Regions from separate parts of the Homo sapiens genome. Here all the other regions are reported to be linked to region 2. Evidence: microRNA targets listed by miRTarBase, many of them from high-throughput screens and not tested one by one. Region 2 holds a microRNA gene; each other region holds the end of a gene's coding sequence.
Evidence for each region. Region 2 holds the annotated microRNA hsa-miR-548h-3p (CAAAAACCGCAAUUACUUUUGCA, at 4,341-4,363, opposite strand). A microRNA usually pairs through its seed, bases 2 to 8, with sites in the 3' UTR of a target mRNA and lowers its output. Matches are read on the target gene's strand: a 7mer-m8 pairs with bases 2 to 8, a 7mer-A1 pairs with bases 2 to 7 and ends in A, and an 8mer does both.

Region 1: miRTarBase lists HYCC1 as a target of hsa-miR-548h-3p. Seed matches in the 3' UTR shown: 7mer-m8 at 5,747-5,753, 7mer-m8 at 5,722-5,728, 7mer-A1 at 3,356-3,362 and 7mer-A1 at 2,091-2,097.
Region 3: miRTarBase lists SNCB as a target of hsa-miR-548h-3p. Seed matches in the 3' UTR shown: 7mer-A1 at 1,693-1,699.
Region 4: the mRNA of LRRC55 is a reported target of hsa-miR-548h-3p. Seed matches in the 3' UTR shown: 8mer at 1,864-1,871 and 7mer-m8 at 3,764-3,770.

Annotation. Positions count from the first base shown.
Region 1 is chr7:22,939,502-22,946,501 of GRCh38, forward strand. HYCC1 (hyccin PI4KA lipid kinase complex subunit 1) reads right to left here. Exons shown (of 11, transcript NM_032581.4): 11 at 1-6,662. The coding sequence ends at 6,088. Among named protein-coding and RNA genes, the nearest start is that of HYCC1, 71 kb to the right of the region's middle.
Region 2 is chr8:27,044,531-27,051,692 of GRCh38, forward strand. MIR548H4 (microRNA 548h-4) reads right to left here and starts at 4,433; the gene lies at 4,323-4,433.
Region 3 is chr5:176,615,051-176,622,212 of GRCh38, reverse strand. It overlaps SNCB (synuclein beta), which reads left to right. Exons shown (of 6, transcript NM_003085.5): 5 at 910-999; 6 at 1,370-2,131. The coding sequence ends at 1,402. Among named protein-coding and RNA genes, the nearest start is that of GPRIN1, 8.5 kb to the right of the region's middle. RefSeq lists a silencer at 2,752-3,021.
Region 4 is chr11:57,187,001-57,194,162 of GRCh38, forward strand. It overlaps LRRC55 (leucine rich repeat containing 55), which reads left to right. Exons shown (of 2, transcript NM_001005210.4): 2 at 245-4,717. The coding sequence ends at 480. It overlaps LOC105369309 (a long non-coding RNA gene), which reads right to left. Exons shown (of 7, transcript XR_007062670.1): 3 at 7,048-7,162; 4 at 1,921-2,151. Among named protein-coding and RNA genes, the nearest start is that of LRRC55, 8.6 kb to the left of the region's middle.

The sequences.
Region 1 (7,000 bases), not on the chromosome of region 2:
TTTTACTAACAGAATAACGAGCATTGTTTGACCACTAAAACACAATTATCTCTAATTCTGTAAAATGTATTATGATTTACTTTTAGAACACTTTGATTTTATCTTACCTTAAAACTATTACCTGTAAGACAGATGGGGTGAGTGAATTTTAAATACATCTCTATTAGGTAGGATTTAATTAGTATCTTCTTTTACCAAGCTATATAAAGTGAGAGTCCTAAGACCTGTGTTCAAGGCTGAGTTTTGCCACTCAGCAGCTAGGTGACCTTAGCCAAGTCCTCTACCCTATTGAGAGCTTCAGTTTCCTCTTCTGTAAAATGGGGATTCTATGCACTTTATAGGATGATTTTGAGGATAAGATGATCATTTTAATTACACATATTAGCTACCACTACTATCACAATAACATAATGCAAAGAAAATAATAACTACAACTGGTTGTAAAAAATCTTTCTCTACAATTATAAAACAGTTATCTTGATATTAACAAAGTCGGGTTGTAGGAGGTGAGTCAGCTATGTGGACTACTGGAGTTACTGGAAGAGTGCATATTGTATAGGACAAAATACTGCTTACAAAATCACCACTCTGGTTCTCTACAAGTACCCTTCTAAGAGTAGTTAAGAACACATTTCCTAAATTACTTAGTTCCTTAGATGAAATGGAATTAACCAAACATATAATCAACTACAAGCCAGGAATTTTTTCAAGTGTCTAATAGGTTAATAGGTTCTGTTTTTTTTTTTTTTTTTTTTTTTTTTTTTTTTTGAGATAGAGTCTCACTCTGTTGCCCAGGCTGGAGTACAGTGGCATGATCTCGGCTCACTGCAGCCTCCGCCTCCCAGATTCAAGTGATTCTCCTGCCTCAGCCTCCTGAGTAGCTGGGACTACAGGTGCCCGCCACTATGCCTGGCTAATTTTTGTATTTTTAGTAGAGATGGGGTTTCGCCATGTTGGTCAGGCTGGTCTTGAACTCCTGACTTCAGGTGATCCACCCACCTCGGCCTCCCAAAAGGCTGGGATTACAGGTGTGAGCCACCGCACCCAGCCATAAGTTCTTTTTTCTAAGTACATGCTATAATGCAATTCATGTAATGCCACTGAGATTTCCTAAAGCCAACAAACAAAATTCTAAAATTGTACTGTTAAAGAAAACACTGAAGACTTATCCTTGATTCTTTTCCAAAGCTAACATCAACCTAACTCATTTATTGTCTCATAAATGTCTAGATACCTACCACGCACAAAGTCCTATCTAGGTACTAGGGGCATATAATCTCTGTACTCAAGAGATATAGACTCTTTCTTCTTCTTTTGCTTTTTTTTTTTTTTTAAGAGATAAGATCTCGTTATATTGCCCAGGCTGGTCTCAAATTCCTGGGCTCGAGTGAACCTCCTGAGTAGTTGGGACTACTACTCACCACACATGGCAATAAAGATTCTAAAGTTAGAAGGACAAAGTGATGTTACCTAAATTTGCCTGTGCTTCTGATATGACAAATAATCCGCCACTGGTGCATGGCCCATAGAGCTCATCTTCATCTTTGGATGAATACGAGTGGACCTGTCATACTCCTCAGCCCTATGACATGTAAAGCACAAAGCCAGGAATGAGGTCATTGTCTTATCACTTACCCCCAAAAGCTCTCAATGGCTCAACTTACCTAAGTCTTCCTCCTTTATTCTCTTCCTTCATATCAAAACTTCTGCAAATTTTTATAATAATTTTTTAAATGAGTAAACTGATCTGGAAAAAATATTTTTTTCAGTTTTTATTTCAATAAAACAAGAGGCAACACTTGTTGTATAAAGTACTACATATGGAGAACATTTACACAAATATACAAAAATTCAAAAAACTAAACTCCAGTTTATTTCCATAGCCTTAAGAAGGTAGGGAACACACAAAAATAGCCAAAGTCGTCGTTTATTCTTTAGGAATGTAAACTCTAGGAATACAATTAGAAACAAATATATTTACTATGAAAAGATTAGTATCACTAAATGATTAGAAATAAAGGTAAGAGGTACACAATAAGTTCCATATAAGAGAAAGCAACAATACGTGAAATAAAATCTTGGGTTTATGGTAAAAACTTCCTATTAAGACAAATGTACTCTAAAACTCTACTATAAAAAAACACAAAAACATCTCCCAAAATGTTCGTTGTTAGTTTCTTTAGATATGCACAAGTTACAAAGTATAGAAGACAATATATTTATGCTCTCTGATGAAGAATTTAACAATATTAAACATAAATCTGAATAACTCAAAGTACTGAGTATAATTTTACTAAGCAACAAATGTAGAAGTATAAATTCATGCTCATTAAAGGACTAGAGAGTTTTAATTTTTCATACAAAGACTGGGAGGACACTATTATACATTAATTTCTATCTACAATGCTTAAAGTACCCATCAAATTATTTTTCTTTTTAAGTGGTTTTTAAAAAATATTTTTCAGTTACATTATTCAACATGTATATATTTCCTTGATGTGCTTCCCTTTAATACAGATTTATTGTGCCTAAACGCAAATGTTAACCTGCCTTATTTTAAATATTTGTTTAAAATTATGTCTCAGAGTACATCTGTTCTCTGTAATTCAACAGTTTTAACATTTTAGTTTTATTCTTCCAAAATAGGCAAAATCCCTTAAAACTGGGATCATTTTGATCTATTTTGGTTTTAAAAATATATTTCCCTTTAATTCAACTTTTTAAAAAAATGAGTAATATTTGCTGAGCAGTTGCTTCACAATTGAAAAGAGCAATGAAATATTGCTTTTTCAAAACAAACTTCAGGCATCATTTAAATGCCGAGAATTCCAACTCTTCAAGTCTTGAGAGCTTGCCTTAAAAATTTCCATAGTGGTATACAAAGGACTCCAGGGTGCTTTCCTGTGGCTTCAGGAAGGGAAGGGAAGACATTTGCCCTGGGTAGTCTGGGACAGTCCCTTGAAAAGTCTATTTTTGTTTCTCTCCCCACTTGGATTCCAAAAAGCTAGTGCTGGCTCCAGTGCCACCAGAATACTCCAGGCCGTTGGGTTTTCAAATGTGAGAGGTTGGGTGATTTCAAGAATCTATAGAGATTTAAAATGTGCAATGAAGCCACAATTTCTGTTCAGATCCTCTGAAATATGGGGTGCAAGACCCCAATTTTGTGTGGAATCCTTCTCATGATAAAAATATTATTCTGGATACTTAGGAGATCTGTGACCATCAGCATCTTTATAAGAAAGTGACCTACAAAAGCTACCCCAATTTTCAAATTTGAAAGTTCAGTGGGGAGAAAGTAGTATGGATAATAGTAATGGTTACCATAGTTAAGATTATCCAATTTTCATAATTTCTATAAAAACTTTCAATGTGTAATCCTTATTTGAAATAGTATCAAAGGAACTATAAAAGAATTTTGTTGTTAACGTAACTCCGCTCTCCAGAAAATCAATTAGTGCAAATCATTTGAAGCAAAAAATCAGAACCATTTCACTGAGCAAGTCTTCAGAGATTTTTTAAAAAGAATATACAAATGCAAATTTGTTGTGCAGTATATAAAAGGGTGGCACCCCTTTTCACACTTAAAATTTCAGGCATTTACAGCTCTGATTCCATTTATAGTTAACAAGAAAAATATAAAGTGTTACTTTTTTACTGCAAAAATAAGGATCATTAGCAATCTAGAATTCAAATACTTAAGAAGCCATATGTCAATATTATTAAACTAATTAATTAGCTGTCAAAACCAATGAAGATTATAATGATCTAGTGTCTGACACATTTGATCTAGGGCTGTGAGACCACTGGGAATTCTACATATTAGACGAGTAATTTGTTTGCACTCTGATACTTTCTTCTCATAAAAATCACTTGGGAACCTTGTTAAGAATGCAAATTCTGATTTAGTAGACCTAGAGTGGCATGAAATTCTGCATTTTTAACAAGATACCAGATAATGCCAATCCTACTTACTGGTCCTCAGACCACACAGCTAGCAAAGGTCTAGAGAGGTCTAAATGAGGTTCCATTACAGTGATAGAACATGAAAATCTGATCTCTCAGCTCTGTCAGCTAACATTTCCCCAAACTTATTCTACAATGTTTCCTAAGCACCTCAACTTGCTTAAAATGCCAATCTTAAAATGCCAAATTAGTTTTTAATAATACCAATACTATTAATAACTATGCACAGGGGAAATTCATTGTTAAAGAATGACAAAAAGACATCTGTAAATTCACAGTGATATTTTACAAATATTTTAAATTGTACACAGGGTTCCTATTAAGTTAATACAATATCAAGTTTCACTGCCCGATTGCCTTACAGTTCTTAACTACAATTTATGGCAATAGATCTTATTCCATTCTGTTACTGGAGCTAAAAGAAAATCAAATTCATTTATGTCAAAATCCACATTGTAAACAGGGCTAATGAATGAAAACGAGTTCATGCTTTTTGAAGAACTCGGTTTAAACTGGTAGCCAAAGCAGTTGCAGTTAAAACTATGTCCAGAGTATAAATGCTTTGGCAGCCTTCAAAGCATACAAATTTTTCATATATCTGAGCTCTGCATAAGCAGGAACAAGAGGAAAACACTAGCATGCTCTCTTGGTGACTACAGCAAGGGACTATGAAGAAGGAAACCGCTGTGCAGTCACAGTGAAAAAGAGCCAAGAACTGGACAGCTCCTTAGGTCTTCCTCAACGGTCAACTGACTCAGCCTCAGCCGTGCTTTCTCTCTCTCACTCTGAATGATGACTTAAGTACATTTGCTTTACAGGGGAACCGCAACCATAGCCAAAAGGACCACGGCTAGCAAACATCAAACTTTTATTTCCATCTAGAGGTCACATACAGATACATACAAGTTTGTTTCAACTTCTGCCATGTCGTCTTTTTCATTTTTACTTTTTAGTTGGGAGGTAACTAAATTGATTATTCTTTTGATATCATACTAAGATATTTAAAACAGGCCTGTTCACTAACAAGAAAGACATTTCTTTTTCTTCGTGTTTTAAATTTAAGAACACAAACATAAACAACTTTAGTTAATATATAAATGTCCTTTGTCCATATTTCACTACCTTTATTTTCTTTCATGACATTTTATAGATGAAAAATGCATTTGCAGACAAACAATTACATATTATACAGTGGTATCTTGAGAGCTATGTTGCAAGATTTACACTGATTTCCAGGAAGTCTTCCAATGACGTATGCTCTGAATTATAGGAGTCCAAACTAACTAGGATTTCCAAAGTCCAGCAGTAGGGTAAATCAGCTTTACAGCCTATTATACCTTAATAATTGAAAGGGATCTTCACATGCTAAATCCAGATAAAACACTTCAAAACAACACACCTACCAGCAATCTGATTTTTGATATAAAAATGTTTCAGAGATAACAACAGAAATGCCTCTAGCCATCCCCTGGAATCATATAATATTCTAGGCACTGGGTTACCAGGCATTTTCCAGGGCTTTGAGCAAATTGTTCTAATCATAAAGATGATCTGCTTACAAATATTTTCATCAGGTGCTTTTCATACACATCATTTTTGTGTTTCCACATGCCTGTTTTCAGATTGGCTTCCTGACCAGGAGCTAGAGAATTCCTGGAGTTGTGCCTCTGCCCCATTCTCTATAAAACAGTTCCCATACATGCAGACTCCCTTTGACTCTGAAGGCCAAACACACAGCCATCAAAATAGGAGCTATTAAAAAACCAAACCAAACCAAAACAAGAAAAACCACCTTACAACCTCACATGAGACATAACCAACTTGATTAGACAACCTGTCAAAATTTATTGTCACTGACAATCTTAGGGCAACAATAACAAATAAGAGGAGGGAAAAAAAAGACTCAAACCAAGGGGAAAAAATCTTAATCAAGAAATAACAAAACCATATTTCAACTTACTGCAACCTAGACAATCTTCCCTTCATAAAGTCAGGGGAGCCTTCAGAATTTAAGACATCAGGGCTCCTGTCAGGAATACGGATGAAAGACCCAGGGTACTTTCATAAAGAAGCAAAGTTGTATTTCCAGGTTCACTAGGTTATGGGAGAAAAATATGTTACTAATTAATCTGTGGACAGAGTAATGCTAATACTAGGAGGTCTCTGCTGACCTGATTGATGCTTCATTGGAAGTTCAGTTCTTTCTGAAACGTAAATAAGCTTTTCTTCTTGGAGACTACAAGCGGAAAACCTATTGGCATCTGTCCCAGCCCCACAACCAACAGCAGATGACGGGTTATGTGGGACTGTGACACCACTGACTTGTTCAAAGGATTTACTAAATACAGTCGCTGCGGTCTTAGCCAAACCATGGCTACTAGGCTTAGGTAGGGATTGGCTGGTTGTTAAAGTAAGTCTCTTCAAAGAGAGAAGCTCAAGATTCTCACTTTGGGCTCTCTGAGTTTGTTTTCGAGCAAAGTGATCTTTGCAAGATTCCCCTGTAGTTTCTTTTTCTTTTCCTCCAGTTTTGCTTCCTCCTGACCGTCTGTGGTTCTTTCCTATACTTGGCTTGTTACTACAATTGTGACTACTGTTTGATAAACCCGACTGGCTGGTACTAGACGCAGCCCTGGAATAAAATCCCTCGTCAACTTCAGATATCTCCATCAGTTCTTCTTGACCTGTTAATTCTGTATTTCCTAAACAAAGAAATGACAAAGATTAATTAACATTAAGTATTTTAAGCAATCTTTTTAAATGATTAACACCAAATCAGTTATGCTTTACATAAATTAAGCTTTAGCATAATTTATAAAGCAACAGATTATAGAAAATCAAAGGATAAATCAAAACATTTATTATAAAATGTCAAAAATACTTCACTGTAATTAAATGACAGTAATTTATAGTGTATTAAACAAAAAGCATGCCATAAACCATACCCCATTAAGTTTTTAGAAAGAATTCTCCTATTCATGCAAAAGATAAGAAACAATTAGAAATATCACGCAGTAAAACTAGGGGTGAACTCTCCTTC
Region 2 (7,162 bases):
CATCCCACCTGTGAAGGTCTCTAGGGTAGATTTCAGTTATGCCATGGAGGAGAAAGAAGTACTGAGTCCTGGCCAGGCACAGTGGCTCATGCCTGTAATCCCAGCACTTTGTGAGGCCAAGGTGAGTGGATCACTTGAGGCCAGGAGTTCAAGACCAGCCTAGGCAACATGATGAAACCATGTCTGTACTAAAAATACAAAAATTAGCTGGGCATGGTGGTGGGCGCCTGTGGTCTCAGCTACTCAGGAGGCTGAGGCACAAGAATCGCTAAAACCTGGGAGGTGAAGGTTGCAGTGAGCCAAGATCATGCCACTGCACTCCAGCCTGGGTGACAGAATGAGACTCTGCCTCAAAATAAATAAATAAATAAATAAAATACTGAGTTGGTCCCAAAACATTTGACAGATAGCTGTTGAATCTCTATGGTAGGCCAGAAACTCTTTTAGGCATTAGGGCTGCAGTGAAAACTAACTCTCTAATCTTATGGGGCTTCTATTTTTGTGTGATAGGGAATAAACATGTAAACAAGGAAATAAGAGAACATCATGGAGTAATCAGTGCTACGAGAAACAGTGGAAGCATGGGAAGGGGATGGCGGGTGTTGGGGAGTCAGGATGGGTGGAGATGACCTTACTGAGGAGGTGATACTTGAGCAGAGAAGGGTATGAAAGGTATGAAGACAGGAGCAAGGCATGCAGGTAGAGCATTCTAGGCATGGGGAACAGAAAGTGCAAAGTCCCTGAGTTGGGAAAGTGCTGTGTGTTCAAAGCACAGCAAAGAGCACAGGGTAGCAGAGGCACAGTGAACGGTGGTAAGTGGTATGTAGGAGCCAGCCTACACTGGTTTGCAGAGCCAACTGTTAAGTTTTCAGGAATTTTGCCAGACGGTTGCTAAACACAGCCATTCTTAAACATTAAATCATATAAACTTATAACTGAACATATCACATTAAAACTAAAACTCACCACTTCCTAATTAGTTTGCTACATTTTTACTGTTATCTATGCCCTTGAAGTTATGTATATCTGAGTGTCTGTAAGGTGGAAATACTATATAATGCTTCAGTCCTGTGCATCTCTTCCCAGCTCCGAGTTCAGTGTGGTTGACTTGTTAGCTTGAAATCAGCCACCGTAGGAGAATTACACAATGGAAATGGACAAATGGTACAAATCAAGGCATACCTTAATTTTTGTTGATTGCCTAGACTTAAGGAAGAGGTGGAGAAAATGTTAATAATTCAGATTAAATGTAGAAGAGTTTCATGCTACATTTGAACAGCACAAAAAATTGAGGAAATATTCTTCCAGTATTTGAAAACTGTTATCCAGTTTGGCAAAGAACATCCTCTTGTTGTCGACACATGGGGAAATTCCAACACACTCCTTTATTCTCTTACTCTTGTCTTACTTGTTAACATGTATGAAAATATCAACCAACATTCATGCCAGGATGGCATATGGGGAGCCAGGTGTTACCCATTTATTATCACACAGATGTGTCAGAAACATAGCTGGGAATCAGATTAGACAGGCCTTATATATCAAAGTAAGGGTGTAAAAATTTTTAATTGTGAAATGGAAAGCTGTGAGGTTTAAAACAGAAGAATAAGATGCTCTGAATTCTGTTTCGGCCTGGTGCAGTGGCTCACGCCTGTAATCCCAGCACTTTGGGAGGCTGAGGTGGGCTGATCACGAGGTCAGGAGATCGAGACCATCCTGGCTAACACAGTGAAACCCCGTCTCTACTAAAAATACAAAAAATTAGCCTGGCATGGTGGCAGGTGCCTGTAGTCCCAGCTACTCGTGAGGCTGAGGCAGGAGAATGGCGTGAACCTGGGAGGTGGAGCTTGCAGTGAGCCAAGATTGCACCACTGCACTCCAGACTGGGCGACAGAGCGAGACTCTGTCTCAAAAAAAAAGGATCATTTCAGTAGCTGGGAACAGAATAGAGCATAGGTGAACAAAAACAGAAAAAGTGGGGCTGAGTTAGGAGAACATACGTCAGCTTCCTCTGGGTAGCTGTGGAGGTGATGAGAAGCAGTTCAACTTGAGCTGTATTTTTCAAGGAAATGTCAACAGGACTTGCTGAGGACTTAGATGTGGGTTAGAAAATAAGAAAGATAGCACAGATGACTCCAAAGTTTTTGGCCTGAGCAGCTGGAAGAATGGTGTAACTGTTCAATAATAGGAAGCCAAGTGAAGCAGAAATAGATTGGGGAAAGGATTGGAATAGAATAAAGAATTCTAGGGCAGCACAATGGCTCATGCCTGTAATCCCAGCACTTTGGGAGATTGAGGAGGGCAGATGGCTTGAGGAGTCCGAGACTAGCCTGCTCAACATGGCAAGACTCCATCTCTACTAAAAATACAATAGTTAGCCGGGCATGGTGGTGCACACCTGTAATCCCAGCTGCTGAAGTGGCTGAGGCAAGAGAATCGCGTGAGCCCGGGAAGTGGACGCTGCAGTGACCCGAGATTGCGCCACTGCACTCCAGCCTAGATGACAGAGTAAGACCCTGTATCAAAAAAAAAGAAGAAAAAAAAAAGGAGTTCTGTTTTTGATATGTTAAGTTTGAGATGTCTATTGTGTCCAAGTGGAGATGTTCAGGGTGAAATTGTATGGATTGTGTTTTTCATAGCATAGGGATTCTAGAGGACTTAATAGTAAAAGAAGCAGTAGGAAGATCTCAGAGGAGAGGATGAGACTAGAAGGATTCAGTTGGTCAGTGCAACTTATGTCTCACGTTGTGTCTGAGGATGACAAGAGGTGATGCATTGTGGGTAAAGCTGACTATATGGTTATTAAAAGAAAAAAAAAAGTCCAAGAAGTCCTAGTAAATGGAAAAATTTAGGTCTCCCTGGATGAAGTCAGCCATAGCCTGGGTTGATTGTTCTGCTGAAGAGAGCTTAGTCAGGTGGAGAGTGTGGTAAAGGGATAGCCATTACCCCCAAGGCTTCAATACAAGTGGAAAATGCAACAGCTTTAATCCTAAGATTCTTCCTAGATTCACAATATGTGTGTGCCCTGGTCCCAACCCCTCCCTACTCCCCTCATTTGCCCCCAGGCTTCGTGAAAGTGATAGCAGAATCAGCCATGCTGATTCCTCAGCCCAGTGCACTGGATGGAAGTTAATGCCCAAAACTGATTTATCTTCCTTGAGGCTGGGAAAAGGGATGAGTTGGGAAAGCGAACAACTAGAGGTGTTTATGAAGGAGGAACATCTGGGATGCCCGTGGTGGTAACGTGGAGTGCTGCAAAGAGGACTATAGAGAAGGAAGGCAAAATGCTGTTTAGAATCCACAAACGTGGAATCAGTGCATCTCATTTGCTGGCTCTTACCATAAAATGAGCATCAGTATCCCTGCCCTGAGCTTGGGTAGCTTATCAGAGAAGATCGCTGACACTTTTGGAGCCCATCTGAATAGCTCCCTCTGAAGCCATCCAACTTGACCATGATCTGGACTTCCTACTAGACCAGTATTTTGCCTTTGCCTGATCTTTCAACTTCAGCTTCTGCATTTTCTTCTAATTAGCCCTTTCTTACCCCACCAGCACTGCCAAAATGGAGACTTCCTGTCCCAGTCTCAGACCTTGTGGAATTCACACCTCCCCTTTCCATCACCACCTCCCAACCCTGCCACAATATGGACTACCTGTTGTTACGTTGAGAAGATTAAGACTACACAGGCAGTTAGTTTAGGGAACACCTTCTACAGTTGGTGAAATCTATTTTTAAGATCATGAAATGTCATACTACTGCCATATATACTAATTTCCTCCTCCTCCTTTCTCTAAAACTGTCACTCAAGATAAAAGTCAGCTGGGCCGGGCAGGGTGGCTTACGCCTATAACCCCAGGATCTGGGGAGGCCAAGGCTGGCGGATCACCTGAGGTCAGGAGTTTGAGACCAGCCTGGCCAACATGGCAAAACCCCATCTCTACTAAAAATACAAAAATTAGTCAGGCATGGTGGTGCACACCTGTAGTCCCAGCTACTCGAGAGGCTGAGGCTGGAGAATCGCTTGAACCTGGGAGGTGGAGGTTGCAGTGAGCCAAGATCACGCCATTGCACTGTAGCCTGGGCGACAAGAGTGAAACTCCATCTCAAAAAAAAAAAAGGGCAACTGGTGAATGCTGGGAATATGAATATCAGGGCTTGTGCTTGTTATTTTGGGGAATGACAGAAGACAGACCCAGGCAGTGTTTTTTCCCTGCATTCATCCTTTTTTCCTTTTTCTTTATTTCCCATTTATTTTATTTAAGTGTGATTTAGTTTGTACAACATTTATAAGAGGAATGGAAAATAGACAAGAAGTGATGATAGCAAGTATTAGGTTGGTGCAAAAGTAATTGCGGTTTTTGTCATTAATGAAACGTAAAGTAATTAAAGTAATGACAAAAACCGCGATTACTTTTGCACCAACCTAATAGCTTTGGAAATGGAACAACGAAGGATCACAAGTTTGGCTTCAAGTTTTCTGTGGTACACTTGCCACAAAAAGCAGGGGGCAGAGGAAACTTTTGGAGGCGATGGATATGTTTATCATTTTGATTGTGATGATATCATGGGTGTATATGTATACCCAAGCTCATCAAATTGTACACATGAAATACATGTGGGGTTTTTCTGTCTATCAATTTATACTTTGATAAAGCTATTAAAAAGAAAAAGGCAGAAATGAGCTCAAATTTTAAACTGTCTTTATTCTTTCATTGAACAAGCATTTATGAAGGGCCCGCCATGTGCCAGCTCTGTGCGAGATATTGATGTGACTCTGGGAAGGCAAGCATTGTCCCCAACCCTGCACATCTATCAGGGAAAGCAGAAGCAATTGCCATCACGTGCTAGGACAGGGAAGTTTGGCACCATGGAAACGTGTAGCAGGGGCAATCCTGGTGTGGGGGTGGGTCAGGATTGTAATTCCCAAATTGGAGACTGACTCACACAGCTATCAGTGACAGGCAGAACAACCTCCACAGACTTCAGCCAGAGGGGGGAATTAGCCATTTTCTTTTATATCACCGTTTTATTCACACATCAGCATCCCCTCATTCCCATCCACTTATTCCTGAAAGCAGGCCCTTTTTGAGGCTCCAAACATAGTAATTAAACAAAGGGGATTCTAGAAGGTGGACAAAGCATTAGAGACAGCTTCATTGTATATAAATGCCAAATTTTCTGCATCAGTAAGGTTGCAGCTGTGACAAGAATTAGGCTGCTTTCTAGGTCATATATTTTCTAAAGCACTAGGCAAAAAAAATATTAACACATGAGGGGAAAAGAAATAAATAGACTCAATTGTTTTAAAACCTTATGAGTAGACCATTTTTTAATAATACAATGAATACTGCTTATTGAATAAACAAAGAAATTATTTGTTAATATAAAATAGAGCCACATTCTCTGGTTAAATCGTGAATGTGTAAAAAATTAAGTTCTCAATTTAATCTGTTCTGCACAAGATTCTGAATGAAAGATTAATTGGATATAATGACACTGATATTATTTTCTGTATAATAATAATTCTATACATGTTTGGCAATTTATAGTTGTAATTCTATGAATCTGAATTTTTAAAAGTTAACTACAAATAAACAGTCTCTGTAAATGAGATATATGGGGTAGGAGACTGCTTACATGGGTATGGCTAAAGCATAAATTTGAAATAATATCTGATTCATATCAGAATTTATCAGCCTGGGCTGGATAATGTTTAGTCACAGATGAGACACAGATAAGAAAATTAACACCAGATTGGTAATTAAAAGTGCTTCCTGGGTATGAATGACACCTCTGAATGCAGCATGAAATAATTCCTTTTGTATTCTGCTCCACGTTTTCTTTCATCTTGTGTTTGGACATTAGCCACAGAGGGATTGATGTTTACCGCAAAGAGCCTGGAGTCAGAAGATCTATATTCTGGTCTCAATGCTGCTAGAAGTTAACTGTTAGATTTTTAGAAAAAATAAGTTCTAATCCTCTGTTCAGCTTGCACATCTGCAAAATGAAGATACTTTTTAAAGCAAAATTGAGAAAGAAATAGAACAAAATTATGCATGCAAAAATGCGGTGAAAATTTTTAGTTAATGCAAATATAAAATATCCAAATAGTCTATGCACAAATATATTTATATATCATAACAATGGAAACTAAATTATAATTGAAGGGATATCAAAAATAGAATTATAGTATTGAAACAAATAAAAGCCAACAAGATTGAATATGTGTGTTTGTGCACGTATGTTTTAAGTGGTGAGATACTTCTAGATATTATGTTGTTAACATATTACCAAATTGTTTAACTCATATATGCGTATAGTTTTTGGTAATATGAAACTGTGCATAGAAGGAGATGATCAGTAATTTATTTGGCTGTCTAGTACATGTTGAGTCACTTCTCCATATAAAAAATTAATAAAGAAGGCTAATAAATGGGCTCCTCACGTGAGGGCTAAAGACAAAGACAGATGCAGACGCTTTGTTCCTGAAACCTCTAGCTTGGAATATGTTATAGTCCTGAGACAAAGCCATTCACAATTAATTCCAATGGTAAATCTCAGTTGAGCCTCGGGGGTGTGAAGGGGGACTGATACAGCATAGTCGGTTTGCCATAAATATGCCTAAATCTATAAAAGATTCATCACATTAAAAGAGGTTTTTTCTGAACACTATGCTCATTTATCAGATTATTTGGAGATTATTTAGTATGATAAAATACAGAAAATACCTCACTACATTTGTAAAATCTTTTCAGAAATCAATTTCTAAGTTTTTAACAAAAATGTCATGATAAGACTTCTAGTACTATAAGATGTCATAGACCTTCTGGTATAGGCACAGCAGTCTGAACAAACACCGAAATAAGAGGGGCACCTTAAAATCTCTAGTCAAACGGACTGGTAGAAACCTTCTATGCAATCTCAGTCTACTAAGAAGTAGGTTTCTACCTAATGTAAAAAAACCAATACTGAAAATCAAGGAAAAGAAAGAAATAGGAACAAAACAAACAAACAATAAGACAAACAAACAAAACAAACAGTAACAAGATAAATCTCCAAAAACATACTTGAATGAAGTGGAGTTTTGTGATTTACCTGACAGAAAATTCTAAATAATGGCCATAAGGTTACTCATAGATGTCAAGACAGCAATCCAAGAA
Region 3 (7,162 bases), not on the chromosome of region 2:
CAGGTCAGGAGCTGGAAACTCATGTGCCCACAGGGCCCACTTAGACAGGTAATGTGAAGGAGCTGACGCTGCCTGGATGGAGCTGGGACACCCAGGGTGCAGACGTGGTCAGGGCAGGCTTTCCCCAGCACCAATGCTCCGGGATCCCAGGCGTGTGCCAGCCCCACATGAGGCACTGCACAGGCTGTGCATGGATCCTAAGCTATCGCGTGTGCTTGTGTGTGCAGCCAGCTCAGTCCCATGTTTGTTCACATACATGTGGTCACCTGCAGGTGGCTGGCCATGTGTCTGGCAGCCCGCCCACATGCATGCCCGCTGGTCTGCGCCTGTCTGGGCAGCAGACGCAGCGGGTGGGGGGGAGAGTCTTAGCTCACACATCCAAGCAACACCACGAGCTGTGGCTTCCAGCTTATCTTAAAATAGCAACAGCTGAAGAAACGAGGCCACACAGGGCCCGGGGGAGGGATGAGTGGAAGGTGGCGGGGGAATGGCTCAGAGCCCCTGCCCAGCCCTGTCCCTGAGCCTCCAGCTCCCTTCAGCCCAGGGGAGCCTGAGGGTTATCTCTGGGGTCCCGATGCCCAGCACAGAGCCTGACACAAAGGATGAGGCATAAGCTGGTGACTGAGTATCCAAATGGTGGAAGTGTGGAGGCTGCCAGGCATTGGGGGAGCGGCGTGGAGAGCCAGCTCCCACTCCATGCTGCCACTTCAACTGTGATTCGGGGGAATTTCCCCCTTCACCTCCATCCCACTTCCAAGGCACTCCAAATAAATAACTGAATTAGAAATTATCCTTGCTCTGCCAACCCACCCTAGCCTTCCCCACTCCAACCCACCCAAAGCTTACCACTGTGGGAATTTGGGGGGCATCCTGGCTGTCCTCACGAGTCCTGACCTTTTCTGCCCACAGCCAGAGGAAGTGGCCCAGGAAGCTGCTGAAGAACCACTGATTGAGCCCCTGATGGAGCCAGAAGGGGAGAGTTATGAGGACCCACCCCAGGTGAGGGGGCAGCAGGGCTGGGCGGGACTTTGGGAATCCAGGATGATTGCTGCCGTCCCTAGCTGGGGTGGGACATCCCTGGCATGAGATGGTTGGGCCAGGGAGCTTGACATCCCTCTTCTAGAACCCAGGCCCCAGGAGGTGGGAGCAGGGAGGAGAGGGCAGATAGGGTCTAGCGCTGGGCCCCAGGCACACCTGCCCAAGAATTCTCTGTTGTCCCCAACTTCCAGGCTCCTCCCCTGCCCAGGAAAAGGGGAATGTGCTATTCCTCCTTCAGGGAGAGGGTTCTTGGGCCGGGGCTTGGCCACTTGGTCTCAAACTCCTCCTCCTTTTTGCTCTTCTCTACTCCACCCCCATCCCGGTGATGCAGGAGGAATATCAGGAGTATGAGCCAGAGGCGTAGGGGCCCAGGAGAGCCCCCACCAGCAGCACAATTCTGTCCCTGTCCCTGCCCCGCCCCCCAGAGCCAGGGCTGTCCTTAGACTCCTTCTCCCCAATCACGAGATCTTCCTTCCGCTCTGAGGCAACCCCCTCGGAGCCTGTGTTAGTGTCTGTCCATCTGTCTGTCCTACCCGCCCGCGTCCAACCCCGGGGCATGGACAGGGCCAGGGTTGCGGTCGCGGCTGGGAGCCTCGCCCCTCCAGTGTTGCCTCCTCCCATCCAGCGTCTGCGCGGATGTAGCATGTTCTATGTGTTTTTAAACGAAGATCCGAGCGACGGCTCCTCCCCGATCCCCGACAGTGGCTCTCCAAGCGGCCCCCGGGCAGCCCCAGAGCACCCCGCCCGACTCCCATTAACCTCGAGAACCTTTTTTTTTTTAACCAAAACCAGGAGCCAGGCTGTGCCATGTCCCCCGCCCCCCATCCCAGCCGGCCCGGTCCGAACGCGGGCGTCGTGTGTTGTGATTGTGGCATGGAGAGTCCCCATCCCCCCCATGTGAGCGTGTCCCGGGCGGGTGGGCCCGGCCGCCCCCGAGAGTCCATGAATAAAGCTAATCTGTCTGTAGCCAGAGCCGCACCGGCAGGGCTGGGCTGGGCGCCGGGTGGGGGCGACACGTGGCGGCGAGTCTTCCAGGTCCCAGCCTACCCCTCTGTGCTCTTTGGGGTCTGGCACACACAGCCCAGGTACAAGACTGGCCACCTCTGGCTTCGCGTCTCCATCTCCCACTCTGTCCCCCGGAAGGCAGGTCGGGGAGGGTGCCCCCGGGGCTGGGACACGCAGTTGGCTGGGAGGCGGGAAGGTGGCCTCGGGCGCCTCCTGCTAGTCCCTAAAGTGCCAGCTGGGAGTGCAGGATCTAGGGAAGCCCCATGCCGCCGCAGCGTTGGGGCGGAAGGGCTCACAACTGGCCGCACAGGTAGCGCAGGCGCGCCGATGCCCACTCACGTGCGGACCCGCGTGCCTGTCCGTGGGTCCATATGCGCGAACCCGAGTGTGCGCACTCTGGCCGCGCGAGCGTGCATGCACGCTGGCCAACACGTGCATCCCATTCGAGCGCTGAAAGACCTCTCCCACTCCAGAACGTGGACACGCACAAAGCCCCGCGCGCACCTGCCCAAAGCAGAAAAACTTGTCTAAGGGGAAGGGAAATGGGCAACTGCCCCTGCAGCCAGCAGAGCCCTGGCCTCCGGTGCTCCACCCTCCCACCCCCACGAAGGCGCCGGAATGTTTGAGGCCGAAAGTTTGAGGTGGGCGAGGGCCCGCAGAGGTCTGGGATGCCGCCCGGGAGCCTTGAGCGGATCAGGATCAGCACTAGGGGGCCCCCAACACCGCCTCAGAGTGAGAAAGATGGGGGCGGAGATACTGCTGGCTCCGCGCAGAGGCACCGCCCCCCATGCGCTGCCTTTATTGGCATAGGCAGTCCCTGCGCGAGGCCCCGCCCCTGCCCTCTTGCCGCAGAGGCCCTCTCTCCGCGCTTGCACCGAGGCCCCGCCCCGTCCCGCAGAGGCCCCGCCCCCACCCGGACTGGCTCTTGGCGTGGCTATGCCGCAGAGGCCCCCAAACTCGCCTGCGCAAGACCCTGCCCTATTCTAAACCTCAGTGCGACCTCAATTCGTGCCGCAAGCCTGCCTCGCCCTCCAGCCTCTAGCTGGAAGAAGGTTGCTCTATTCAGTTAGCCCCCGAGTGTTAGCGCCTCCTCTTTCCCTGAGTTGTTGGGGGCAAGAAGTGGTGCCAAGCCGGGAAGAAGGCCTTGAACGCTGCGGGAGACCGTTCTGCTCAGGTCACCTTGGCCCGCAGGGTAGGGACCTTTATTTCCGGAAGTAGGAGGCAGCTGGCAGACGTGAGGCGGGTGGGGTGGCGGGGGGGAACAAACCGGTGGGCTTGGATTCTCTGAGTCACTTACGTGAGGATGCCAGGAGCTCCAGATCCCTTTTGGTTGAATTAAGATGCTACTCACAACCCACAATCCGTGGAGATTGCAAACTCGTGGCCCTCAGGCTGAATTTGGCCTGTAGATATGTTTGATTTGCGAGCACAAGGTTTTAAAATTGTAAAATTTGAATGCCTTTAGGCTGGACACACTTCCAGTTGGTCGCAGTCCCTTCCCCTCCTTTTGTATCACACCCATCCACTTCACTCATTTTCATGCACTGCGTGGCCCCTAAAGACTGAGTTTGCCGCCTCCAATCCAGCTACCAGCACCTGATCCCCATTTTTAAACGCCAAAACCAGGTTTGCCATCTGGCTTGTGGGGAGATTCATTCCTGCTTCCTGGGTGCCAACCCTCACACCTGGTCCCACTGAGAATGGTTCTGCTCAGAGACCAGTGTTCTCATCTGCCAGGGTCAATGCATTCCAGGCACAGGCCTAGAAGTGTCAGCCAAGATACCAGCCTCGTGTCAGAAGCCTTGACCGTGTGCATGTGAGAGCCCACACATCTCATGGGCTCTCTCTGGTGACAGGGACCAAGCCATTTCCCAAGTGCCCAGTATATCCATGAAACGCTTATCTCCAGTAATTTCACTGGAAACTGCCATCAAGTCTTTCTTGTTTTTTACCCCCAATTTATGGATGAAGGAATGAAGGCTGGAGAGGCAGTTACCTGCCCACTGTCGCCATTGCTAGGAAGTGGCAAAGGCCACATTTGGCCCCAAGCCTGTCTCCAAAGCCCACCTCCTTTGGAATTTCCAAAAGGGGCCTGCTTTGCCTCTGAGGGGAGATAAACAAAAGACACAGGAAAATGTGGAGGTAGCAGCGTGGAGATTACGGACACTTGTGCAATTTCATGGAGCCAGGTAGCGAGGTTGTGTATGTGGGTGGGTTTGAGCTATGTGTGCACACTTACAAAGGTGGTATGGGCATGAAGTGTGCTGTGTCTGTATCAGTGTTCACGCATGTACCCATGTTGCGGGTTCGTTTAGTCCGACAGTGTGCGTGGCACAGATGCTCTGTCCTTAGATGGAGGAGGGGCTGCAGGGAACAGCCCTCAGGTCACTGCTCCGACTAGAGCTCACCTAGTGATCACAAAATGGCCAACAAATACATGGAACAAGATAATCTTGAGTTTTACGAAGAACAAAGCAGGGCGGTGTGATAGAATGCGACGAAGAGGAGGTGGTGAGCAACCTTAAAATAAGGCGGCCAGGGGCCGGACACGGTGGCTCAAGCCTGTAATCCCAGCACTTTGGGAGGCCCAGGCAGGCGGATCATGAGGTCAGGAGATCGAGACCATCCTGGCTAACGTCTCTACTAAAAATACAAAAAATTAGCCGGGCATGGTGGCAGGTGCCTGTAGTCCCAGCTACTCGGGAGGCTGAGGCAGGAGAATGGCGTGAACTCGGGAGGCGGAGTTTGCAGTGAGCGGAGATGGAGCCACTGCACTCCAGCCTGGGTGACAGAGCGAGACTCCGTCTAAAAAAAAAAAAGAAGAAGAAAGAAAGAAAAGAAGGCTGTCAGGTCAGTTGTCTGAGTTGTCTGAGGAGGGGAGGTTGGAGCTGAAACCTGATGGAGGAGAGGGTGGTATGGGAAGACCTGGGGGGTGGCAAGTGTCGCAGATGGAGGAAAAGCCCACCTCGCTGTGTCTGTGTGTCCCCAGCAGTGTGGCCATCAGGCTGAGCCCAGCCAGGCCTCCTGAGATCCGTGGATCCAACCCCACCTTACCTGGCCCATGATTTCCCTTTGTCTGCCTGCCTCCTCCTCCATCCAGACAGCGGCCGTCACCTCTGCCTGCCGCAACCCTCCCTCTTCTGAGCTTTTGTTAGTCCTCTGACTGGAAGTGATTTCTCCTCCTCACCCCCATCCTGCTTTGCTGTGCACACAGAGACTGCCTTCCCACCCATGTCAGCACCCTGAGGACCATTGCTGGGTGGCTAACCTGAAAACTGCCCTCTCCCACTGATGGAGGGCTGGGGACTGTCCCCCGTCCCCGCTGTTCGTCGGTCTCCCTACCCCCACCCCCAGCAATGCAGCTCCACAGCTTTCTCTGGAACTTTATTTTTGTTTTCTCCCTTCCCTATTTATAGCTCTCTCCCCTTCAAACCATCCCTGCATCCATCCTGTTGCCTGGAAACAGGCTCTGGGCTGAGGGTGGGGGAAGGCCAGGCCGAGCCCAGGCAGGGGAAGGAAGAGCTGTCACCCACTCCCCTCTTAGTACCACCCCCAGGCTCCTAGAAGCCCACCCCTCCCTCTGCCCAGCACCCATCGTGTTTTTTAAAAAGAGAAAACAAAATGTGACAAGCAGCGGCCTTTGGGAAGTCCTTCCTGGCTCCTCAAGGGCACCATGATTTCACTTGCACCTCTCAATAGCCTACCTGCCCGAAACTTGGACCCATTTTTTCAGATGAGGAAATAGAGGTTTCAAGAAGCAAAAGTCTTGCAGCCCAGTGGAAGCTCCATGCTGTGGGGTTGAGAGCCTTGGGATATCAGCCTGACACACTGAAAAGAAAGCTTGAAAGCATAAATCATTCTGTAATTCTTTACTTACAGAAGGATAGAGAGAAAAAGTTTACAACAAACCTGCCACACAGCAAGCCACTGGCCATGCATCTGCCATGCCCTCTGCCATGCACCCTACCATGCCCCTGCAGTACCCCCACCTACCTCCTACTGTGTGCCCACCACACCCAACTGCAACTTGACTTCTGGCCCTAGTGCTTACTCCACAGATTGGACCAGGCTTGCTTCCTGACTCTGTCACCCCACCAACTGTGGCAGTGGAAGTTCACATAACCTCTCTGAGCCTTGGTTTCCTGAGCCCCAAAATGAGGATGCTAATTTCCACCCCATAGGACTAGTAGGAGAATTAATGCAATACTGATGAGAAAGTGCTTCGTAAATTATAGGGTGCTGTAAATTGGGAGTGATCAATTAGAATAGTTAATATTGTTTATTGTTATTGTCATTGTTAGGACCAAGAGGTAGGGCGGGGAACCAAAATTGGCCCTGAGATTAGAGAGGGAGCCCCTGGCCAGGGTCCAGGCGGAAGGACTCCTTTCCCTGGCAGAATGAGGGACATGGGTGGGGGCTGCCTGGGTGCACCTGCAGGATATCAGGGAGTGGAGGAGGGCACAGAGGTCTTCTTGTGCCCAATTTCTCCCTCTCAAGTGCTCCATCCCTTATTGTCTACCACCAACTCATTGTCCCCTGCCCTAAGATCCAACTTTGCTTTCCAAATAGGCTCTCTGGGATAACTTGAGCCCAGGAGTTCAAAATCAGCCTGGGCAACATAGCAAGACCCTGTCTACAAAAAATACTAAAAATTAGCTGTGTGCAGTTGCTCACACCTGTAGTCCCAGCTACTTGGGAAACTGAGGTGGGAGGATTGCTTGGGCTCAGGTATTGGAGGCTGCAGTGAGCTGTGATCATGACACTGCACTCCATCCTAGGCAAAGCAAGACCCTGTCTCAAAAAAGAAAAAGGAAAAAAAAAAAGGCTCTCGGGCAGAATGGGAGAGAGGGCTGCCAAGGAGCAGCTGGGCCATGATTCAGCCTGAGTCACCCATCCGAATCCTGGGGCCTCCCTCATCCAGGCCGGGCCGCAGCTGCTGGGGGTGAGGGGGGTGCAGCGAGGGGGGAGGGGGCCTGTGTGAGCAGCAGGCTGTGTGCCTGTGTGCCCAGGCTGGGGCTCTCATGACCATCAGTGCAGCACTGTGAGGGCCCGGGGATAGTGCATGTGAGGAGATCAGGGTGGGAAAGGTGACCCGATGTGCATCAGTTATCTGGGCTGA
Region 4 (7,162 bases), not on the chromosome of region 2:
CCAGATGACTTTCAGCAAATTGCTAAACTCTTTAAACAGTACTTTCCACATCTATAGAAATAGGCATAAAAATCCTTGTCTTGAGAGTTGTTGAGGGAACTAAAGGAGTTAAGTAGAATTCTTGGCACATGGAAGAACTTCAATGAATGTCTTTCTTACTTTTTCCAGCAAGCGGTTGTGGGTGGACTTTCCAATCCCCTCTCCTTCCCTGGGTACCTCACCCTCCCTGGCTTCTGTGTTACAGATTCTCAGCTGGCTGAGTGCCGGGGCCCTCCTGAAGTCGAGGGCGCCCCGCTCTTCTCACTCACTGAGGAGAGCTTCAAGGCCTGCCACCTGACCCTGACCCTGGATGATTACCTATTCATTGCGTTCGTGGGCTTCGTGGTCTCCATTGCTTCTGTGGCCACCAACTTCCTCCTGGGCATCACTGCCAACTGCTGCCACCGCTGGAGCAAGGCCAGTGAAGAGGAAGAGATCTGACATGCCTGCCTCTCATCCCTCCATGCTGCTGACCGCCACAGCTGCTGGCCACCAGACGCCCTCCCTGACTGCTCACTCTGGTTCCATGGTGACCTGGCTGCCTCAGTCATGGTTCAAGCAAGGTGGGGACACTCATTTTGTATGAGCATCTGCTTTGGGCCAGGCGGCACGCTAGGAATTGGGAACATCAGATGAACTGACTCAGTCCCTGCCCTCAAGGCACTTCCCTCTGGTCAAGGAGAGAGATCCAAAAACTATTCCCTTTAAGACTATATGTCAGGACTCTGAGCACGTCATTATGGAGGCCCAGAGGAGGAGCCATCATCTGTATCTAGCAATGTCCATGAGAATTATAAGATTAGAGTGATTTGTGAACTGGGTCATCAGGAAATATCTACTTTGTCAGGTAGGCAAAGAAGGGTGTCTGCACATGGCAGAGGCCAGAATATGCATAGTGTGCTGTGTTGAGAAGAGTGAACAGTTCCTGGTCACTTACTTGTATAGAGGGGGTGTGGCACAGAACTCAAACCTACCCCTCACCTCCTGACACCAAAACTGTCAGCTCTCAGCAATGCCAGCCACTGCCTACAGGGAGTAAGAACACCTCTATGACAGCCCCTGGCCTCCTTCCACCAGCAGCTACCAGGTGAGACCACCTCCCAGTGACTGCCCCCATATGACCAAATGTCACCAGTTGGTGAGGTCCCAGGCAGCAGGCTGAGGATGGACACTTTCAATGCCCTTGCTCCTGCCTCTCACTCAAGTTTTGCTTCAGAAGAGAGAGGCAGGAGGCCCAGCAACTGGGGCAGCAAGAGTCCTGGCACCTTGGGATCCTAATCATGTGACTGTTCTTGCCACAGTGCTCATGCCACAGGGTCTCACCAGGAAAGTGCACTGTGGGCCACAGACCCACAGCCTGGCAGCACCCAGAGCTAAAAGGGGACAAAGGCAGCACAGTTATGACCATATGAGGCTTTGCATTTTCTTCTAAGCAACTTACCCACGTTAAGCATGAGGGTGAGAGAGCTATTAAATACTAAGCCCTTGCCAGTGTCAGGTACTTTGAAAAGCTCTCTGCACAAACCATTCCCTTTGACACACACACACACAAATCTTTTGAGGTGAACGCTGTTGTTCCCATTTTACGGATGAGGCAACTAAGGCTCAGAGAGGTTAAAGTCACATGCCACTATGAGCAAGATAAAGTCTGTGCTCTTTCTACTGCCCCATCCAAGTTGGGGAACATCACCATTCCCTCTAGAGTTATATAAATTCAAATTCAACTAGAGCTGACAAAGTTCCTCATAAGGTCCAGGCACTCCTCTGGGCACTTTTATATCTATTGACTCACTTCTTTCAATTCTCACAGCAACACTGCCTGGTGGTTTTTATTATCCCCATTTGACAGATGAATTAATCGTAGAGAGTTGAGTGACTTACCCAAGGTTGTCTGGATAAGCCCTAGAAGGAAGGCGGTAGGCAGCTCCATTCAGGGAAACTGCATCTAATCAGTCAGTCAAAAATCAAGTAACTTTACGAGCAAAGCACAATTATCATCATCGTGGTCTTCTTCATCAGTTTCGTCAGCAGCATCATTATCTTCCCTCTATTTGTTCAGCACCGGATAGTTCATGAGTATTTTTGCATCATTCTCCTTGACTTTTCACATCCCTGTGCAGGAGGTAAATCAAACATCAGTAATCCTGTTTTACAGATGGGGAAAAAAGTCTCAAGGTTGGATATGACTTGCTATGTGGCAAGGTTGGGGCTCAACCCTAACACAGTTCTCTTTCCAGTGCTTTCTCAAGTGCTTGGGGAAGAGAATGCCTCAGAAGGCTGGGTAGTGGGGCCCTGGAATTCAGCATCCATGAATGTGCTAGTGGATAAGCTAAATAGAAGGCAGCCAAACCCATCTGCTGTACAGATTGAACTATGCTCACGGTAGGGCAAATTGCAGGCTCTGAAACAGAGACTACACAGGTAACACCTGAATAGGAGACTCCTGCTTTACAATGTGTAGATAAAACATCAGCAATGGTGGCCATGGTGGCAGTCATGTGAAAAGTAAGATCTTTGGGAATCAAGAAAGGAAGCTGTGTTAACCACTCCTGCTCAAGCCCTGCTGCGTGTGTTGCAAGAGATACTAAGAGAGCAAGAAAGCTATAGGTGAGAACCTCTGCAGTTTAGGAGAAGAACATCAAGGCACAGTCCAACATGCTGATAAGTCTGGCCAGGAGGAGAATTAAAACAGGGGCTTTCCACACCTCCCTTGCCCCAAGCTCCAGCGGTATTCTATCAGCCCATCCTCCTGGAAAGCCTGAAAGGAATGAAGGAGGCTAATAAGTCATCTTCCAGGAAGGCATCCCTCACTCGTGCTTCCCTGAGCTAGTCAACCAAAAGAGTCTTCAGAAACTTTGCTAGACCTGAAGTACTTGAACCTGTGTCCCCTGAATCTTTCTTACAACATCTGGGACAAATCCCTGGCCCTGTGACATCCGAAGCAGAACTGTGCCCTGCTCTCTCCTTCTGTGATGACCAAGGATGGTGAACTCAAGTTGTTCTCTACAAGCCAGGCCAGCAACCTAAATACTTGGAGAGGAACTTTTAGAAACTATAATCCTGACAAAATAGAAAAGTTTCCCATAGGGGCATACCATAATACTATAATAACCTCCCAGGAACTATTGTTTGCCAAAATGTAGTTAATATATTTTAAGATATATGCTTTTTTGCATAGGACTAGAACCAGAAAAGACACCAAATGCCCCCTTGACATCAATGTCCTTTCTAGTGGGACAATTTGGTCTCCATTAATGCCAAGCCTTTCTGAACAGGATACATGGCTTTTAAAGGACAGATGTTTCTCCTGCTGCTAGAAGTTCCTCAGTTTACTAGAGCACAATGAGGAAAGTATTCAACCTCCCTACTGCCAAGGAATTCCCTGCTTCTCCCCCACCGCCATCATCTTGTCCAAGCTATCAGAAGCAACCTTCTAGAGATAATCTAACAATCCTGATTAGAATTGCTCCCATATCCCTGGTGACCACAGGCTTCATTCAAATTGTCCAAACTGGTTAACATGTATGTGATGGGGTATCTCTGCATCTGTATGTCTGTCTGCGAGGTTCCTTGTATATTGGCTGTCCGCTGACTTGGGACAGATCTCTCTAGAACTTGGGTTCAGTTCTCTGACATAGTCCACTCAGCCATAGGCTGAGTGGCTAAATATGCATAAATAAGCATGCCTAAATAGGCATATATAGGTTGGTGCAAAAGTAATTGCGGTTTTTGCCATTAAAAATGATAGCAAAAATCCCAATTACTTTTGCGTCAATCTAATATTACATTGCTTGATAGATTAAGATGGAATCCCACCAGGTTTAGGGTAGGACTGGATGCTCAAAAAATAAAGAAGGAGAAAAATCTGTGGCAGAGGCATCCTAATGAGAACCTGACTTCTCCTTGCTTCCCTCTGCTCTCTCCTGCGCCTCAGAGACTTGTCCCCATTGCAGAAGCTTCCTCCATGCTAGGCCAGAGGATATCAAAGTTTAGTTTGGTCAAGATTTGGGCCAAGAAAATTCCTTTTTAGAAGAGCCCTCATATCTGAATCACATCACTTTGGGCCAGTTATCTCTGGTCACCCTCAGACAAACCCTCGTCTCTTTTTCTCCCTTCCTAGAGGAATTCCCAGGGAACTTTGCAGAAATAGGTCTCCAGAGTTGCTACAGAGGTTCATGGCTCCTTTCGAGGAGGGACATGTATGAAATTTGAACAGATCAAGACAGGTGTTTGTCTTCAACCATGGGGGAAGACCTCCAGCTTCCATTTTCCCCTATACGTGTCTGTGCTGACATCCTTTCCAGCAGTAGAAGACTAAAAAGATATATCTTAACCCATTCCTCAAAAGGACATCTTCCTAAAGCCAGAGAAAATTGTCTGCGCTTCCCCACCCCAGGAAGAGGCAAAAGGGAAGTGAGGGCGTCACAAGGTCTTTTGTAAATCACTATTGTGTTTGTCACAGCACTGGGCGGAGAGCTGGATCCACAGAGCTCTCAGTTTTTCTAAGCACTGTCCTGTAATGTGCTAATGTCTGGGGGTGGGAGGGCTGGGGAGGGGTGGGGTTAGAGGGAAGATGCCAACCTTTGTATGGAGATGATTTTATAACCATGCACTTTTGTAACTGTGCAGAATTTTTCATAAATGTACATTAATAATAAAGAGTGTATAGTTTAACAAATTTTCCTAAGAGCTGTGAAGAGGGATAGGGAGAGGGAGGGAGGTAGAGAAAGAAAGAGAGAAAGGAACTAGGCGGAACCAAGAGAATGTGTGCCAAAATATACGCACAAAAGGTCTATGGGAGGGAGTGGATGGAAATAATTAGGAGATGTGCCAGCCATGGAGGGGCATGTGTGGGAGTTGAAGGAACATCACAGAAGTATATTTCTACCAGGCAAAAAAAGAATACGCGTGTGTCTGTATGCACATACCCCTCTGTGTAGGCATATTTTGGTGCCTGAAATTACACAAAGAAGAGAGCATATGTCTTACACATGTTGATGTTTGCAACTTGGGTCGTCCATAAAACATACCAAGGCAAGTGGGTGTGCCTGCCTAGTTAGCATCACTGAAGGGTGTGTGATAAGGAGATAGCACACACCAGCAGCATGGGCAGAAAGACATTAACTCAGGCATGCAGGTAAATCAGGCATCTAAATGCATGGTGTTGGGGCTGGATGAGGCCATTGCTGGTATAAGTTCAGCCTCTGTTCTCATAGGTTAATAAAGAAGGGAAAGGATTCTAAACCTCCTGGGTTTTGCAAGTGTTGCCTGTACATCATCAGAAGTGAGATGCCTAGGCAGTGTACCTTGAGAATAGGGACAGGAAAAGAAGGAAAGTGTACTTCTGTAGGTACAATGGCAGCTGTTTTTATCTTAGTATTCTAAGTAGGAAGTGGCTGTAAGGAAGTCAATCCAAGCAGGAAGTGGCTCTGAGCAGAAAGTAGTTCCTTCCACCAATAGGGATGTTAACCTCCCTCTATTCCTCCCACTCCAATTGCCACAGGGTACAAACAAATACCGCACTCATAGCCTCTAAATGGAACACAGATACTGACTCAGAACACTTAGCTAAACAGAGAACATCTTCAACTGTAATCAGTGTTTTCTAGAGTAGATTAGAGGGAGGCAAAACCCTTCTCTTCAAATTAAGTATTTAATAGAGACTATGCTGAACAAGTGCAAGATCAAAAATAAGGCTCCTGAAATAAGCAGACATCTCATGAAAGACCAGATCTTGCATATCCCATTCAATGCTGTTCATAGTGCCAAGGACTGATGATGGTGATGATGATGATGTTGATGATGATGATATATTTACTCATCACTTACTGTGTGCCAGCTGCTCTGCTAAGCACTATATATGGATTAATTTACTTAATTTTCACAAAAACCCAAGGTAAGTACTATTATTATTTCTATTTTACAGATGAGGCAACTGAGGCACAAACAAGCTAACGTGCTTAAGGTCACATAGCTAGTAAGTAGTTGATCTGAGTTTAGACACTCAGTAATACTTGGTGACTGACTAACTTCAGAAGACAAGAACAATGTGGGCCATAAGAGAAAATTCAGTCTCAGTCAAAAGTAGGGTTTTAGCCACAGAGGTCTTTATATCAGTTTATTTTCACACTGCTGATAAAGACATACCTGAGACTGGGAAGAAAAGGAGGTTTAATTTGACTTACAGTTCCACATGGCTGGGGAGGTCTCATAATCATGGCGGAGGGTGAAAGACACTTCTTACATGGCAGCAGCAAGACAGAATAAGGAAGAAGCAAAAGGGAAAATCCCTGATAAACCCATCAGATCTTGTTATTCACTATCACGAGAACTGCATGGGAAAGACCAGCCCCCATGATTCAATTACCTCCCCCTAGGTCCATCCCACAACACGTGGGAATTCTAGGAGATACAATTGAAGTTGAGGTTTGAGTGAGGACACAGCCAAACCATATCAGTCTTCTGTGATTATTTGGTGAAAAAAATTGGAGAGTAATAGGTAAAACCAACAAGTATCCTATCTGTTTCATTGCAAGTAGCTTTAATGGTTGCATTGGACAAGGTAGACTAATTGTGATAATAGGTGATTCCAAAATCTCAACAAAGTAGAGATGTGTTTGCTAGGTTATTTGACACAATTAATTCTTATTTCCTGCTCATGTCATGTCCCAAAGCATGTCAGAGGCTCTGCCTCACATGGTTATTCAGGGACCCAGGATTCTTCCATCTAGTGGCTCTGCCATCTCTGAGGCCATGGGAATTCTCTACAGCATGGAGGATCTCAAGGACATTTGCAGGAGTCAAAAATAGAAGCATTGTACTTTAATTCCCGCATATTCCATTGGCCAGAACTGAGTCCCATGATTTCATTTAACATCAGGGAAGTAGACTAGCTGTGCACATAGAAGGCAAAGGAAACAGACTTTGATCAACTCCACCAGTCTCTAACATGGTCTGCTCTTCTTGTTACCAAATACCTGTTTCACTCTTCCTCCACACTTATCTTACCCTGTCAGCACATCCAGGTCAAAGCTCAAGATCGCCAATGTTCCAGTATCTCCATCAGGTCTCTTGGTGGTCCAGTGACCTATGAACTAAAAAGAAAAATTATCTGCCCCCCAAC